Linked DNA regions of Homo sapiens. The protein of the gene in region 1 purifies or fractionates together with the protein of each later gene. This does not show direct contact. Each region holds a gene or a part of one and is shown in the gene's direction. Other genes may lie near its edges.

Region 1 (5,842 bases):
GACCTCGTGATCCGCCCGCCTCGGCCTCCCAAAGTGCTGGGATTACAGGCGTGAGCCACCGCGCCCGGCCACACCCAGCTAATTTCTTAAAACATTTTTGGCCGGGCTCGGTGGCTCACGCCTGTAATCCCAGCACTTTGGGAGGCCGAGGTGGGCAGATCACCTGAGGTAGGGAGTTCGACACCAGCCTGACCGACATGGAGAAACCCCGTCACTACTAAAAATACAAAAATTAGCCGGGTGTGGTGGTGCACACCTGTAATCCCAGCTACTTGGGAGGCTGAGGCAGGAGAATTGCTTCAACCCGGGAGGCGGAGGTTGTAAGCCGAGATCAGGCCATTGCACTCCAGCCTGGGCAACAAGAGTGAAACTCCATCTCAAAAACAAAAAAAAATTTAGAGATGGGGTCTCACTATGTTGCCCAGGCTGGTCTCAAACTCCTGAGCTTAAACAGTCCTCTTGCCTTGGCCTCCCAAAGTGTTGGGATTACAGGTGTGAGCCACCACCCCCAGCCAAGAAGCCTAATTTACTGAGCTTCTTCTCTGTGCCAGATGCTTTCACACATTAATGAAGGTCACTTAAATCTTACAGTTCTCTGAGAAAGGCCTAATTTTTTGTTTTCATAACAAGCAAATTGAGGCTGAGGAAGAAAGTAATTTTTCCAAGGCTATACAGAGTGACTTTTAAAAAATGTAAATCAGGTGGGGCACAGTGGCGTGTGCCTGTAGTCCCAGCTATTCTTGAGGCTTGGGTAGGAGGATCACTTGAGCCCAGGTAGTTGAGGCTGCAGTGAGCTATGATCACACCACTGCACTCCAGCCTGGATGACAGGGTGAGAACCTGTCTCTACAAGTAAATCAAATCACTTCGCTCCCTTTCAATAGCCTGTCATAGCACTTCTAGTACTAGATGAGAAGACTGAGGCACAGAGAAGATACTAACTTGCCCAAAGTCACAATTAGCCAGGAGTAGATTTGAACCTAGGCACTGTATCCGGAGGCTGCACTCCTAACCATGAAATCTAAACTCCTTACCTTGGCTCACAAAGCCCTATATGCTCTGGTTCCTGCTTCCTCTCTGGCCTCTTGTTATACCACTCTCCCCAGCTTCCCTGGCCTTTCCTGTGTTCCTAAATTGTCAAGGTCATTTCCCCCAGGTTCTTTGCATGAACTGTGAAAAGAAAAAATTTAACTTTTAATTGGTGATTTGACTTTTTTTTGCCAAATTTGTTAAATCTGACTTTTATTTGCAACTCTAGAATCGGGCAACACTTCATTCTATAAAATGGAATGAGTGTTCAAATGAGCTGAGCAGAGGAGATTGGTTTTACAGCCAGAAAAGGGCTGAGGAAAGCAGAAACAGAAAACAAAAAGATTGGTTGTTTCAAAGTTACTTTCCTTGTAACTTTGAAGGCTAAAGCAGAGGGGACTTCCTTATCCTGCCAGCTAAAACAGGATGGTTTGGAGATCTAGCTATCTCTCACTCTTCTGATTTATCGGAATATCAGATAAACAACTTAGTTTCCACTTGGTGATGTAGAACTTTAGCATGAGTGACTCCATTTTGGTTCTGTTGGGCTTGGTGCAGGAGCCCTGTTCAAACCAATGGCCTCCAATTTTTTTTTTTTTTTGAGACGGAGTCTTGCTCTGTTGCCCAGGCTGGAATGAAGTGTTACTTTCTGAGCTCACTGCAGCCTCCACTTCCTGGATTCAAGCAATTCTCCTGCCTCAGCCTCCCAAGTAGGTGGGACCAGAGGTGTACGCCACCACGGTGGGCTAATTTTTTCTATTTTTTGTAGAGACAGGGTCTCCCCATTGTTGCCCAGACTGGTCTCGAACTCCTGGGCTCCAGTGATCCTTCCGCCTTGTCCTCCAAAGTGCTGGGATTACAGGTGTGGGCCTCTGCACCCGGCCCTGCCTCCTATAAATTTTACTTAACAAACTGTTCCCGCTAATTGCAATGCTCCTCCCATAGTTTTCACAAGCTTGGCTTCATGTCACTAATCTCAACTCAAATGTCACCTTCTCAGGGCACCCCTGACAATCCAATAAAAGACCACCTTGTCACCATCACATCACACCTTTAATCTTCTGAAGAAATTTTTCCCTATTTTTCTTCTTTGTTTTCTTAAGACTCTCTCCCCTGCAGCGCCATCAGCTCAGGGAGCCACTTGATCTTGGTCACTGCTCCATGCCGGAGCCTGGGAAGGAGCCTGGCCCAGGTCGCCGGTTCAATGAATGCGTGCGGAATGAATGAACGACTCTAGTGAAAGAGACTCCAATGACGCAGGCCGGGATTTGCGGAGCACGAGCCCCGCGCCGCGAAGCATTCTGGGGATTGTAGTTTCTCCGTGACGCGGTGACTTGCAGAGCACTGACGCACTCTGCGCCCGGAGGACAGAGCGGCCCGGTCGCCGGCATGGTTTCTCCGTCCTGCTGCAGCCGGCGGGAGGCAGCCAGTCCAGGCGCCCGCTAGCTTCGGCGGCGACCCAGACGGGGAAAGCGGAAGGAATGTCGCGTGGTGGGTCCGGGTCGGCGGTGCAGGGAGCCCCGGGGCGGAATGCGGGGGATGCCAGGACCTCCGGAAGGAGGTGCCGGAGCCCAGGAAGCGTTTTCTTCCCCATTTACCGAGTATAGCTCCTTTCCCCAGACCCGCTCCCGCTGCTCTGAGTAAGCGGTGCTCATCCCGTTTTACCGGTAGCTTAGCTAGCTTGGAGAAGCTAAGTGGTTTGCTAAGTGATCGCCCTCCTAGGAGGTGGCAAAGCCTGTTCTAGAACCCGGGCCTGACTCGAGGTCCGGTGACTGCTCTTTGCAGTCGCAGCAGCAGCCCCATACCTTTGCTTGATCGCAGATTCATCAGGCTGCAGCCGGGTGGCTGGTCGTTAGGCCATGCCCAGGGACCTAGCTCCCAGGCCCCCTCGTCACTGGCCTAGTCTGGCTTGCCACGCTCAGTGCCACAATGCACAGCCCTGGACGGGATGCTGAGTGAGGTCGTAAAGAGAGAGCGTTCCACCCCCTTTAACTCAGGTCTGAAAATAAGGGATAGGTAAGACATAGTGCACTAATACATTATCAGGGCATGTTGAAATCAAAGGAGAGTACCTTTAGTGGAGTGTGATTCTGGTAGCTTTGTTTCTCCTGTAGTTTAATAAATGTGGAAACAGGTTCAGAGACATTAACTTTTCTAGGTTTTCATAATTAGGGGTGGAGTGGGGATTCCAACCTAGGTTTCTCTACCTTCAAAACCTATGTACCTTATATAATACCGGTTGGGGGTTTTTTTCCCCAATTCATTATCCAGATTTATTTTCTTTTTTTTTTTCTGAGAGTCTCGCTGTGTCACCCAGGCTGGTGTGCAGTGGCACAATCTTGGCTCACTGTAACCTCTGCCTCCTGGGTTCAAGCGATTCTCCTGCTTCAGCCTCCCAAGTAGCTGAGATTACAGGTGCGCCCATGCCCAGGTAATTTTTGTATTTTTGGTAGATACTGGGTTTCACCATGTTGGCCAGGCGGGTCTTGAACTCCTGACCTCAGGTGATCCACTCGCCTTGGCCTCCCAAAATCCTGGGATTACAGGCGTGAGCCCTTGCACCCGGCCTCATTACCTTAATTTCTACTTACATAACAGCTGCATGGTGTAGACCAATAGTTCCCAGAGTGTGGGCCCCTGACCAGCAGCATCAGCATCACCTGGGAACATGTTCAAAATGACTTTATCTCTGGGCCTCACCTCAGACCTGAGTCAAACTGGGAGTGGGGCCCAGCAAGCTGAGTTAACAAGCCCCTCAGATGATTCTGATACACACTAATGTTTGAGAACTACTGGTGTCAACCAATGATTCTCAAACCTTAACGTGTATCTAATTCACGTAGGGGGTCATGTTAAAATGCAGTCTGTTTCCAGCCAGCGTGGAAGATGGCAGTGAGCCACTCAGTGAAGGAGTGGATTTTATCTCAGAACAGGCTTGGGGAGAGACCTGAGATTGCGCATTTCTAACCAGTACCCCTCAGCACTTTGGAGTTATCTGGGGAGCTTTCTTTTTTTTTTTTTTTTTTTTTTTTTTGAGATGGAGTCACTCTGCTGCCCAGGCTGGAGTGCAGTGGCACTCCACTTGCAGCTCACTGCAAGCTCTGTCTCCCAGGTTCACGCCATTCTCCTGCCTCAGCCCCCCGAGTAGCTGGGACTACAGGCGCCCGCCACCACGCCTGGCTAATTTTTTTGTATTTTTAGTAGAGATGGGGGTTTCACCATGTTAGCCAGGATGGTCTTGATCTCCTGACCTCATGATCCGCCCGCCTCGGTCTCCCAAAGTGCTGGGATTACAGGCGTGAGCCACCGCGCCCAGCCGGGAGCTTTTACAAAATAGGATACCTGGGCCCACCCCTCTAACCAAACGAATCAGAATCTCTGGGGTGGGGAGGTTGGGTTAAAAACTCACCAGATGATTCTAATGCACACCTGGTGTGAGGTTTGGAGCCAGACGGCTATGGATTTTCTTTTTTTTTTTTTTTGAGACAGAGTCTCTCTGTTACCCAGGCTGGAGTGCAGTGGCGTGATCTTGGCTCACTGCAGCCTCCACCTCCCGGATTCAAGCGATTCTCCTGCCTCAACCTCCGGAGCAGCTGTGATTATAGGTGCTCACCACCATGCCCGACTAATTTTTGTATTTTTAGTAGAGATGGGGTTTCACCATATTGGCCAGGCTGGTCTTGAATTCCTAGCCCCAGTGATCCACCCACCTTGGCCTCCCAAAGTGCTGGGATTACAGCGGGGAGCCACCACGCCCGGCCTGTGGCTACGGATTTGAATTCCAGCAATTCCACTTATTTACTGTGACCTTGGGCAAGTTACCTCTCCTAGCCATATTTTTCTTTTTTTAAAGTTATTGATTTTTTAAAATTAATGTATTATTAGGAATGATACAGACTTTTGTTGTTAGTCCTAATAATTTGTCTTGCATTCTCAATGTAGATAATCATATAATTTATAATTGACCAACAAGGACAGTGATCTTCCTTTATAATTATTGTTTCTCTAAATTCTTTCCCTTCTTTCCGTAATCGTTTTTTGAACATTGCATTGACCATTACCTACATTTTACTGTTGATTAGAAGCCATAAAAGGCATCCTTTTCTTGTCTCTGACCCAATAGAAATGCTCACCATTTTCTTTATTTTTTGAGACAGAGTCTTGCTCTTGTTGCCCAGGCTGGAGTGCAATGGCGCAATCTTGGCTCATTGCAACCTCTGCCTCCTGGGTTCAAGCAATTCTCCTGCCTCACCCTCCCGAGTAGCTGAGATTACAGGCATGTGCCACCACGCTTGGCTAATTTTTTGTATTTTTAGTAGAAACAGGGTTTCACCGTGTTAGCCAGGCTGGTCTCGAACTCCTGACCTCAGGTGATCCACCCGCCTCAGTCTCCCAAAGTGCTGGGATTGTAGTCGTGAGCCACCGCGCCCGGCCAATGCTCACCGTTTTCTTATAGGTTTTTCTTTTTTTTGAGACGGAGTCACTCTGCCGCGATCTTGGCTTACTGCAAGCTCCGCCTCTTAGGTTCACGCTATTCTCCTGCCTCAGCCTCCCGAGTAGCTGGGACTACAGGCGCCCGCTGTCACCACACTCGGCTAATTTTTTTTGCATTTTTAGTAGAGACGGGGTTTCACCATGTTAGCCAGGATGGTCTCAATCTCCTGACCTCGTGATCTGCCTGCCTCAGCCTCTCGAAGTGCTGGGATTACAGGCGTGAGCCACCATGCCCAGCCTTCTTGTAGGTTTTTTTAAAAAATCAGAGTTGGGGTCTTGCTATGTTGCCCAAGCAGGTCAGCAGAGCTCTTGGGCTCAA
Region 2 (4,276 bases), on another chromosome or scaffold:
CAGAGCTTGCAGCGAGCTGAGATCGCGCCACTGCACTCCAGCCTGGGCGACAGAACGAGACTCCGTCTCAAAAAAAAAAAAAAAAACAAATTTAATTTTTTTTTGGAGGCAGGATCTTTCTCTGTCATTCAGGCTGGAGTACAGTGACACAATCATAGCTCACTGCAGCCTTGAACTCCTGGGCTCAAGTGATCCTCCTACCTCAGCCTCCCAAGCGATCCTCCTACCTCAGTCTCCCAAGTAGTTGGGACTACAGGCACGTGCCACCACAACTTGCTCATTTTTAATTTTTTTTTTTTAGAAACAAGGTCTTGTTACGTTGCCCAGGCTGGTCTCGAACACCTTTCAGCCTCCCAAAGTGCTGGGATTATAAGCATCCCCCACTTGCCTAGCACTGGTGGGGGAGCTTTAAATGGGCACCAGTGAACTAACTTCGTGGGATGTAGACCCAATGTTGCCAAATCCTAGGATGTTTCAGAAGTTGGAAACATAATTTTTAGGTGAAATTTCCCAATTTTCAAGTTTGAGACTAGTGAGCCATGCTTGAATTTTCTTTCAAAACATTCTGTCTGCCAACAAACATTATGGGCCAAATATCTGTCAACTGAGTTATACTCGTAGGTTGAGGCTTAACCTCTGACATGTAGAAAAACTCATTGTTCAGTAGAATTAGCATTTATTGTAGGTCTACCATATTCCCATATTTGTAGTCTCAAAAATCTGGACAACTCAGAACAACAAATTTTTTTTCATAAATTTAGTGTCCGTGCCTTACCTGAACTACTACAGGGTATTTTTTAAATATAACTTTAAATTATTCTACCTAGAATGAACGATGATACTTTTCTCTAGGGTAAAGTGTTCAATTATGAAATGCAGCCTGATCCACACTGCGCTGGGACTTTGTTTTGTTTTGTTTTTGTTTTTGTTTTTGAGACGGAGTCTCGCTCTGTCGCCCAGGCTGGAGTGCATGGCGCCATCTCGGCTCACTGCAAGCTCCACCTCCCGGGTTCACACCATTCTCTCGCCTCAGCCTCCTGAGTAACTGGGACTACAGGCGCCCACCACCATGCCTGGCTAATTTTGTTATTGTATTTTTAGTAGAGACGGGGTTTCACCGCGTTAGCCAGGATGGTCTGGATCTCCTGACCTCGTGATCCGCCTGCCTTGGCCTCCCAAAGTGCTGGGATTACAGGCATGAGCCACTGCGGCCAGCCCTGCACTGGGATTTTAATGAAATATGCCATGTATATGCCATATCACCTTTTGAAAATAAAAGTTGAATTTCAAAGCACATCTGGCCTTGGAGTTTGAAGAATTTGTGGACCTGTGTCATTGTTAAGTGATCCGTGCTGCTTTGTGATATGAAATGCTTTCAGCACTCCGCAGATATGTGCTACTTGGTCCACGCAGTGGATACAAATGGGTAAAAATGTCTGTGGTACAGTTTTGCGTATTATGGGTCATGAAAATAACTAGGTGGGCAGTGACTATGATTTTTTAATGAAGTAGAATAAAAGAGACTAGAATAGAAAACATCCCAGTGCATCTTACATTGCAGGGTAAGTATTGCTTCATGAAGCTTTTGTTTAGTTACACTGTGTGTTTGAGTAGTCATGATACTTTTTTTTTTTCTTTTTTGAGATGGAGTCTCACTGTGTTGCCCAGGCTGGAGTGCGGTGGCACCATCTCGGTTCACTGCAGCCTCTGCCTCCCGGGTTCAAGTGATTCTTTGCCTCAGCCTTCCGAGTAGCTGGGATCACAGGCACGTCCCACCAAGCCCAGCTAATTTTTGTATTCTTAGTACAGACGGGGTTTCAGCATATTGGCCAGGCTGGTCTTGAACTCCTGACCTCAAGTAATCTGCCCACCTCGGCCTCCCAAAGTACTGAGATTACAGGCGTGAGCTACTGTGCCTGGCCTATTCTACATATTGGTGGTGTTACTGTGGGTCACGGTTAAAACAAAAGTTGAAATATTTCTGTTGTAGAGATAGTGGCCAGGTGCGGTGGCTCACAACTGTAATCCCAGCACTTTGGGTGGCCCACGAGGGCGGCTTACTTGAGGTCAGGAGTTTGAGAACAACTTGGGCAACAAGTGAGATCCTGTCCCTACAAAAAGTGAAAAAGATTAGCTGGATGTGGTGGCACATGCTTGTAGTCCCAGCTGCTTGAGAGGCTGAGGTTGGAGGATTGCTTAAGCCCAGGAAATTACAGCTGCAGTGGCCCATGATTGTGCCACTGTAGTACTCCAGCCTGGCAACAGAGCAAGACCGTGTCTCCAAAAAAGAGTAACAGTTTCGGAGGCCAATTTACCTGAACTCAAATTCCAGAGATGATAATCAGAAATCCCAGAAGCATTGTTCCATTGGTTCTTTAGACACCTTCGTTCTGTCAACAACTGTAGGTACTTTTACACCTACTGTTAAAGCACCTACTGCGTACTAGGCACCATGCTGGTGCTAAGACACAGCAGTGAGCAAGACAGAAGCTCCCACTGTGGCCATAGACTTTCATCACCAAATCTCCTAAACATGTGCTGACTGACTGTTAGGTGCTAACCCACCATTGTTGGTGGCGAAGCTGTTCTGTAGGTTCTGAAGCACAGTGCAAATGTGGGGCTGAGGTGGCTTCAGTAAATATAGTTGTTGTTGTCCCCTGCAGGGAGACTCACATTGGGACTTGTCCTCCTCCTCCTGGACATTTTGGGGGCTCGTCAGCATGGACAGCGAGTCAGCCATGGGTGGAAGGGAGGCTTTCTCACAGCTCCCTTGTGCTTCCCACAGCCCTGCCAGCCGGGAACACGGAGGGGAAGGAGGAGGAGCTTAAAAGAGGCTACTGAACCCCAGTTGGCCATGGCTGAGGTGAGTTGAAGGTCGCTCTGTCCTAATCGGTCACACCCAAAGGCAGAAAAATTGGCCTTCCTTTGTGGCCGAGGCGAGTTGAAGGTCGCTCTGTGTTGATTGGTCACCCCCATGGCAGGAAAGCTGGCCTTCCTTTGTTTTGGCCTCCCTGTCCCATGGTGGCTCCCAGGCGATCTTTTTTAAAGGAAAGCTCGCATGCTGTTCTTTCCTGTTTGTACTCTTCTGGGAACCCCTATTGCTTATAGAATAAATTCCAGGTTTTTCAGCCTTCCTGTGTGTTCTGGCTTCTACCCTCTTTGCACCATCTTCTGTCATTTCTCTAGATAACAAATACTCCCTTTGGCCTAGTAGTAAAAGTTGATTCTGTACTTTCCAGCAGCTTCCTTTGCTCAGGTTGGGCCCTCTGCTGGAATTCCCTGCCCCTTTTCCATGTGGTAGTGTCTCACACAGCCTTTAAGACCCGGCTCAGTTCCCCCACCCTTCCCTAGGCAGTCAGCACTTTCCTGCTCTAGCCTTCCATAGTACCCCCTGCTGCCTCCACTGTAGCACAGATCCACCTAGATATGGATGTTCCTGCCCATATCTGTCAGCCCCACCAGACTAGATGCTCCTTGGGGACAGGAACTGATGGGGATTCATCTCTGGGTCCCCAGGGCCCAGCACAGGCCAGGAACACAGGAAGCCTCATGAGGTGTTAGTTGAATGAATGAATGAATCAATGAATGATGCATGAAACCATCTCTCTATCTGGTAAATATCTGTTCATCCTTAGTGATCCAACTTGAATGACCTTCCCTCCAGGAAGCTTTCCCTGACCTCAAGGCAATGGCCTCCCTCTCCCCCTTGGCCCACACAGTCCCCGATACCTCCCTTTGCCACAGTCCTACCTCCCTCGTGTCTCTCCGTCAGACCATGAGCTCCATGAGGCCAGGAAACAGGTCTGACACACGTCCATGTCCCCAGTGCCCACAATGTGGTCTAGCACACAGGGTAAATGATTGCCAAATATGTGCTCTGACCTTGTCACTTTCCTGTGGCTCCCCAGTGCCTCAAGGATCTAGTCTGCCCCGTCTTCCCACCTCCTTCATCACTGTGACAGGGGCCTTGTCCAGCGCAGTCTGGGAGTGTGAGGAAAGGAAGCCCCTCAAAGGTCCTCTTTGATCTGGCTCCTGCTTGGCTGCTACTCTTGACAGGATATAGACAGCAACAGTTTCTGTTATAAGTACCAGAAATTGACTTACGCAGTCAGGAGACTATTAATTATATAACCAAAAGTCCAGAGGTAGGGCTGTCATGATCTGCAGGTGTGACTGGGACTCAGTTTATTGTCCCCATCTTGAACCTCACTTAGTATGGGTTCCATCCTTCATGAGCTCCTTCCCTTGTCCCAAAACAGCTATCAGGACCATGTGC

Evidence for each region. Proteins that work in one complex are often made in the same cells at the same time.
Region 2: the proteins of LSM10 (region 1) and ZNF473 purify together in Homo sapiens (affinity purification with western blotting, with the first as the bait; one study listed by BioGRID). This does not show direct contact.

The regions. Positions count from the first base shown.
Region 1 is NC_000001.11:36,394,445-36,400,286, reverse strand, and holds the start of LSM10 (U7 snRNA-associated Sm-like protein LSm10), read left to right. Parts: upstream 1-2,378; 5' UTR 2,379-2,520; intron 2,521-5,842. UniProt on the Homo sapiens protein: Appears to function in the U7 snRNP complex that is involved in histone 3'-end processing. Increases U7 snRNA levels but not histone 3'-end pre-mRNA processing activity, when overexpressed. Required for cell cycle progression from G1 to S phases.
Region 2 is NC_000019.10:50,028,229-50,032,504, forward strand, and holds part of ZNF473 (zinc finger protein 473), read left to right. Parts: intron 1-2,663; 5' UTR 2,664-2,854; coding exon 2,855-2,863; intron 2,864-4,276. UniProt on the Homo sapiens protein: Involved in histone 3'-end pre-mRNA processing by associating with U7 snRNP and interacting with SLBP/pre-mRNA complex. Increases histone 3'-end pre-mRNA processing but has no effect on U7 snRNP levels, when overexpressed.